Homo sapiens: one gene and its partner. The protein of the gene in region 2 purifies or fractionates together with the protein of the main gene of each other region. This does not show direct contact. Each region holds a gene or a part of one and is shown on either strand. Other genes may lie near its edges.

Region 1 (3,923 bases), on a different chromosome or scaffold from region 2:
TATATAACTACACTGATATAACAGATTTTAAGAATAGGAACCACATCTTGCTTTGTTCATTAATGTGTGTATACTAGCACCAAGCACAATGCCTGGAATGTAGTACAAGTTCACATATACTTAAAGAATGTTCACAATGATTTAACAAGCCACAAAGAACAGTTTAAATTGTACTCTGTACTATTTAATGAGTATATATAGAATAATTTTAAAATAGTTTTAAACAGAAATATTTTGAAACGAAAACCTTTGACATTTAAAAGTTAACTATCAGTTAATGTTAATATGAACTAATTCATTCTGAAATAGTACCATTCCATTTAAGTACTTTAAAGAATCTGGTATCGCTTTGCACAAGAAAGAGAATGGATTAGTAGTCAAGAGACCTAAAATCTAGGCCTCACCTTTAACAACTCTGGACAAGTTACTTAAGCCCTCTCAGTTTCTTTATCTGAAAAATGAAGAGGTGAGGACAGATTACCTCTAAATTCTAAACTCTATGATTAAATACCTTCGGCTTACCACAAAGAGTACTATAAACATCATCACATTTTACAAACTAAGAAAAACAGACACAGTGAAACCAAGTGACACAACGACCAATTTCAATCCTTGGTCTTGTGCTCTTCATATAGATTAAGCTACTTTGCCTACATCACCAATAACTTACTTTGTCAATACATGGTTTTACACCAATCATGATGGATTCTCCAAAAATCCTCCCATCTTTGCTTAAGGCTTTCCGAGCCTGCAGTTTAGATTGATAACGAATATGCATCCAATTTCCTGTATTAGACATCTGCAAAGAATAAAACTGTCTCTTAAAATAGAAAATATATAAAATCTACATCTAATGAATTCTACTAGAAAATAGGAACATGGTAAGATAAATTTACTTCCATTCCGTATTTGATGCCTTGTAAAAAGCTGTAAAGTTCAACAAAAATCGTATTTAGAACAGCTTCAACAATCTCTCAATTCTCTACAATCAACATGTACATATTCTCTGAAAGTAAGATACTTCTCAAAATATGTTTATTGTAAAGAGATCAAAGCAACACTTGCCATAAAGTTATTTAAAACTACTCAATTTGATTTTGTATAGGAGTTAAGTCAATCTCTAGCAACAAAAAAGGATTTGTTACTTATAACTTGTAGCACAAGGTAAGATAATTTTTTAAATTTTAGAGCTATAAAGCTCTAAAAACTCTAAAAGCTCAGGAACTGCCTCCTACTTCTTTTATCCCCAATAAAAGCAGCTCAAATTGGAAAACAGTAATATAATACTTGGCATAATCTATCTTTTTTAAGACTGTAAACTGTTTAAGAAAGGAGGTGAGAGGAGGTGGATTTTCAAACTCTCAATTCTCCATATCTTCTCACTATATCTCTTTTTATCAAAAATTAGGCAACTTCCAGCCTTCCAGACTTCAAAGGATGTATTATATCAAAACTCAAAAAAAAATTTAAGTTTAAAAAAAACCCACAAAATTCAGAAGCAGTTTCTCTCAATTCACAACTTATCCCTCTTTAGTCAAAACTCTGAACTGAAAAAAATTAAGCCTTACCACATGTTTTAAGATATTCCCATACTGTGCAAATTGTAGTAATATGTAGGAAGCAGATGCTTGAGGAAACCTGAAAAAAAGAGTTGTCCAAAGAAAACGTCAGCTTCTACTATCAATGTGAATGCAAATTACTACAAGATAATGTTTCAAGATAAATGGCCCCCAACTGTCTAGAACGTTAACAGGAGAGTGCTGATCATCCTGTTTTCCCCGATATGGGCTAATTCTGTCAGTGACTAGTCACTCAAAAGCAAATACCTTAAAGTTAGTCTTATCCTGCCATTCTTCTCCATCCTCAGATTCTACCTCTGAAATCTCTAAAAATGCTACTCTCGTTGCCATTATCCAGGTCTTAGAAAAAAAACTATAAAGTTGCAGTTCTATATATAATTTATTTCAATATGTGTATGTTAATATGTAATATATTTAGGTATACTACGGTTATGAAAAGATAAAGAATTTTAAATTATAAACGAATCATTATACATTGAGCATCACTTAAAAATTCTGAAATTTAGTATCATAACAAAGAGAAAATTCAGCATCAAAATATTTATGGTATAGAATCACTTAAAAGGACAGTTACCAAAATTTGATTAGCCATATCTCTGCATGAGAAAATTCTAAGTAATTTTTACTTTCTTCTTTATAAAGTTCTGTATGGTTTGGATATTTTACAATGACATATTATTCTTTTATAGTCTTAACAATAAAGCTGTTTTCAATTTGAAAACAATAACCACTACCAATCGCATAGAAATGGCTATCTAACTTCAGTTATCTGAAGACTGAATTAGAACCCTAAAGAAAAAAAAAAATTCGAGTCTCAAAAATAAATCAGAAACCAAACACATTAAAAATCTATGTGAGGCTGGGCACGATGGCTCACACCTGTAATACCAACCAGCACTTTGGGAGGCCGAGGTGGGTGGATCACTTGAGGTCAGGAGTTCGAGACCAGCCTGGCCAACCTGGTGAAACCCCGCCTCTACTAAAAATACAAAAAATCAGCTGGGCATGGTGGCGGGCACCTGTAATCCCAGCTACTCAGGCGGCTGAGGCAGAAGTATCGCTTGAACCTGGGAAGGAAAGGTTGCAATGCGCCAAGATCGTGCCACTGCACTCCAGCCGGGTGACAGAGTAAGACCTCATCTCAAAATAAATTAATTAATTAAATAAAATCTATATGAGTAAAATATTCACTGCAATCAGAACTGAAAATTCATTTGTATAAAATCTGGACATGAAATTTCTAACCACAAAGAAAAACAACAAATAGGTTGGGTGCCTACAGGGCAGAGATCAAACAAAAATGAAAAGAAGAAAGAATGGCTGCAAGTGAGGGAAGTACTTAAGAAATAAAACATAATTCTAAAACTCTTGGACCACTTTGAGTAGAAACTTACATTCTAGTACTCTATAGCAGAATCACCCAAAACAATGAATATTTCATAACCCTAAGTCAGTAGGAAAAAGTTAAACTACCAAAGAAAGAACATATATAATGCATCCTTTAGAGGTACTTCCCCATAAATGATCAAAATAAAATACTTTATCCCTTAAAGGAGAATGCTTCAGTTCTTGAAATTAAAGTCATAGAGGGTTATTAAAACACGAAAGTAAAAAAATAAACAGCTGGGAGAGTTAATGTCTGAAATACGAAAAAATACTAGGAGTGCTTCAAGTAATTTATCTAATTACTGGAAATCTTAAAAGTTAAACCACTACTACTGAGCCTGAAAAACAGATTTAAGAGTGGGTACCTATTTTCAAAAACATGCAGCCAAGCTGGCTCATGCCTGTTATCCCAACTACTCATGAGGCTGAGGTAGAAGGATTGCTTGAGGCCAGGAATTGGAGGCTGCAGTGAGCTATGATCATGCCACTGCACTCCAGCCTAGATAACAGAGAGATTGTCTCAAAAAAAAAAAAAAGCCATTTTATGAGAGACTATAAAAATGTAAATGTAAAAGAAGAAGAAGAAAAAAAACACACCAGCCCAATTGCTATGGATATAGGACTGAGTATGGACTTTCTAGAGAACAACGGAATGCAATGACCCGCTTTTTACCCAAATAGAAATCAATAACACATAAAATCTCTCTGGAAACATACACAAAAAACAGATGGCAATCACTGCCTTAAAGAGGAGGAAAACTAGCTTGGGACAAAAGCAAAAGGGAAAACTTCATTGTACATTCTTACATACCTTTTGAATTTTTAATTTTAAATAAATTGAATACATAAAATCCACTAAACATTTACTATGCACCTTTCTTCCTTCAAGGAGCTCATGTGTTATTTTTATGTTTTTTAATCCCAAAAAATATATAATAGATACATTCCAGTATCAGC
Region 2 (4,054 bases):
GTCACTCAGTGTCCCTCGTTTTGCTCGGAGACATCCTGACCTGGGCAAGCTCTTTAGGGAGCATCTTTCCTGTCTGTGCCGCATTCTCCATGGCCTTTGCACTCTTTTTGCTTTTGTTTTAAACACGTCATCAATTCATTGCCTGCAGCAGCTTGTACTGCCTTTTGGTTTTTCTTTGCAGAACAGCTCTGGAAGTGAAGTGTGTGTGTGTGTGTTTGCGTGCACTACTCTGGACTGGGTGCCTTACACGTGTTAACACACTTGATCAGCTCAGCAACACTGTGGAATAAGTGTAATGTGTCCATTATTCAGATCAGGAGACTGAGATTCAGAGCAGGGAGGGAACTTGCCAGAGACCACATGGCTTGCAAGCAGCAGAACCTGGGTTTGAACTGACAGCGGCCTGACTTCAGAACCCACGCTTTCCCACCCTCCTACTTCACACCCATTTGAGTCCAGCCATCTTGGTTCTGAATCATAACCCTGACTCTCCTGGCCACATCCTATGCTCCACATTACATGTTACTCTACAGGTTACCACCCTGGGTCTCTTTCCTATATAAGAAATAGAAATATTTGTGGAAATCCTAATGTTCATGACATCTCTGCCATTTTATCAGGAAAAATTCTATCCTACCAAATACTGGTATAATGTACTTGGCCCCCCTGGATTGGATTGGTATAGGTTAAGAGCAGATATAAGGTCTGAAATAATCCCGGTATTCCTAGTATGTGGAATTATTATCATGGAATCATAATGGCAGTTTGCACCTCTGTTGGGCTCTTTCAACTCCTGTGTTGGCTCAGGAGAATCCTATCACATTAGTCCCCTTTTGTAGTTGGATAGTTGGGCTTGCCAGAAGGCACACAAATTTGGGTTAACTCATTTCCAGGATTCTGGCATTGTAGACACAGAAACACCGACTGTGAAGTTTTATGTAATACAAACACTGGGAGATTTAGCAATAGGCCTGCCAGGCGGCCCTGGCTTCTGGCTGCACAACAAAGGGGGGTGGCTGGTGCTGAATGGGGCAACAGAAGGTGAGTTTGGGGCCTGCAGAGCCTCGGGTAGCCCAGAGGAGCGAGAGAGTATTGGCTGTTCATTTTAACTCCATCCTTGGAGGATTCCCCACCACAAGCCTAAGGAAGTAATAAAACCTCATGCATTATTTTTTGATATCTGGAGAGAAACACGTACCCTAGAAATGCTGTGGACTAATTCCATGGTTACTTTGTCATTAAAGAAACCAAAATACTGAGAGGTCACCATAAACACAAAAAGGCAGAGAGAGAAGGATTAAATGGTGTTTCATGTAAGGATCTTTAAAGGGAGACAGAATTCTAGTCTGAAAGGAGCGCAGGCAGATCTGGCATTTTGCTTGGGGAGTTCAATTCTTTGGAGAAAATACAGAGACAAAAAGACCATTTTGATGGTATTTAAAATATCCCTCTGCCCAGTGTATCTAAGTGAGTCTAAATATATTCAGCAATTTTTTAAAGGGCAGATATTAGGCCCGATTCAAGGTATGGAATATAGATTCGAAAGGGTTAGTGATAGGTGAGTGCCTTTCAGGTAGCTTTGCATCACAGACCAAGCCCATTATTGAGGACTGTACGTATGGAGCAGGCCCGTGAGCTTGTGACTGAGTTTCCCAACCTGCCAGGCTCCCATTTGCTTAGGATGAATATTTTTCTGCCCTCCCTGGTGAGCCACTGTGGGCCACTCGCCACTCCTTACACCCCTTCCCTTTAATACCTCGCTTGGCTTACTTGCAAAATCCACATGCATCCTCCTGGATCTCACAGAAGATGTATGAAAAGTCATGGCCATGAAAAGGGCACGGAAATCAAATTAATTAATTTTGCTTTTTCCCCACGTTTGTTTCTGTCTGTCTGGTACTTTTCCTTTTTAAGCCTGCCATCTCTTTGAAAGTGAGCCGCACAGTGATAATCCATTTTCTTCATTGTAACCCCACAGTGTATGTATTCCACATTAAATAATAAAAGGGATTAATAATTAAATCAAAATGAAAAACCACTTGTTTCCTGTCTATAACCCAAGGGACAGATTTCCTGGGCTGGTGCCAATTTATCAGTGATGATTAGGGAAGATGAGGTAGAAGTGCACAGAGACAACAGCCTGAAAGCAAGATAATGTGAGTTTGAATATATTCATATACAAGTGAAAAGGATGAGATGGTGAGGGATGGTAAATGTGAGAAAGAGCCACAGAAACTGGACATAACAGGTAAAATCCCAGTAATTATCGTCACCTACTGGGGCTGTACCATATACCCAATTTTATTCCAAATGCTTTACATGTATAAACTCATTTAATCATTTCAGAAAAGGTACCAGGTAGATACTGTTCTCCCCATTTTATAGATGAGAAAACTGAGGTGCAGGAGGGTGAGTCAACTGCCCCAAATCTAGTAAGTGGTTGATCTGGAGTTGAACCCAGGCTGAGTGGCCCTTGACTCACACTCAGTGTCTGAGCAACTCCACAAAAATGGAATGCTTAAATGATTCAAGAAAGAGGAGATAGACAAATATCATGGGGTAAGAAATGAAACAGAAAAATCCATTGAGAATAAGAGAAAAACAAAGTGAAAGAAATAGGAAAGGCCAGGCACGGCGGCTCACGCCTGTAATCCCAGAACTGTGGGAGGCCAAGGCAGGCGGATTACCTGGGGTCAGGAGTTCGAGAACAGCGTAGCGAACATGGTGAAACTCCATCTCTACTAAAAATACAAAAAAAATGAGCTGGGCGTGGTGGTGAGTTCCTGTAGTCCCAGCTATTCGGGAGGCTAAGGTATGAGAATCGCAGACAGCAGAGGTTGGCAGTGAGCCGAGATTGCGCCACTGAACTCCAGCCTGGGTGACAGAGTGAGACTCTGTCTAAAAAAAAGAAAGAAAGAAAGAAATAGAAAAATCAGAGTAAGGAGTTGAGAATGAAAGAAGGATTTAAAAAAGCAAAGGACAAAAAGGAAAGACAAAGTGAAGTGTAAGTGGATGTGGGCATTAGAACGAAAGCTGAGGAGGAGGAAACAAAGAACAGATGAGAGACCCAGCTGAAGGGAACTGCATCTTGGCGCTTGCCATGGGGCACTGCTCATGCGCTAACTTATTTGACTTTCCCATGGCATTTCAAGGTAGGTGTTATTAGACACATTTTACAGAAAGAGAACTGAAGGTCTGAAAGACTAATGTCCAAGGCGACACAATTAGTTCATGGCAGAGCAAAAAGAACTGCTGACAATTACAAAATGCCAAAGAAAGAAACTGAAGAATAGCAAATAAATGGAGAAACATACTGTATTCATGGATTGGAAGACTCAATATAGTAAAAACGTTGATTCTCTCTGAATTCATATACAGATTCAATGCAATTTCTATCAAAATCTCACAAGATTTTTTATAGATATAGATAAAATTATTCTAAAACTTATGTGAAAAGGGAAAGCAACTAGAATAGATAAAACAATTTTGGAAAAGAATAAAGTGGAAGGAATCAGTCTACACAAGTTCAAGACTCATTACATAACTGCAGTTATGAGGAAACTCCAGACTATGTGGTATTGGCAGAAGGATAGACACATAGATTGATGGAACAGAACAGAGAACCCAAAAATAGACCTTTGCAAATATGCCCAACTTATTTTTGACAAAAGTGCAAAAGGAATTCAGTGGAGGAAAGACAGCCTTTACAACAAATGGTGCCGGAGCAATTGCACATTTTTAGGCAAAAAAAAGAACCTTGACCTAAGTCTCAGACTTTATACCAAAGTTAATTCAAAATGGATCATGAACTTAAATATAAAACAATAAAACTTTCTAGAGAAAAACATGGGAGACACTCTTCAAGATCTAGGGCAGGCAAAGAGTTCTTAGACTTGACAAGAAAAGCACAATCCATAAGAAGACAAACTGATCAATTAAACTTCCATCAAATTAAAAACACTTGCTCTGAAAAAGACTCTGTTAAGATGAAAAGGCAAAATTACAAAGTAGGAGAAAATATTTGTAAATTACATATCTGACTGACAAAGGACTG

The links. Proteins that work in one complex are often made in the same cells at the same time.
Region 1: the proteins of KCNJ5 (region 2) and NUP35 purify together in Homo sapiens (affinity purification with mass spectrometry; 2 studies listed by BioGRID and IntAct, with this or other methods). This does not show direct contact.

The regions. Positions count from the first base shown.
Region 1 is NC_000002.12:183,155,159-183,159,081, reverse strand, and holds part of NUP35 (nucleoporin NUP35), read right to left. Parts: intron 1,639-3,923; coding exon 1,569-1,638; intron 800-1,568; coding exon 671-799; intron 1-670. UniProt on the Homo sapiens protein: Functions as a component of the nuclear pore complex (NPC).
Region 2 is NC_000011.10:128,897,549-128,901,602, reverse strand, and holds part of KCNJ5 (G protein-activated inward rectifier potassium channel 4), read right to left. Parts: intron 2,039-4,054; exon of another isoform or gene 1-2,038. UniProt on the Homo sapiens protein: Inward rectifier potassium channels are characterized by a greater tendency to allow potassium to flow into the cell rather than out of it.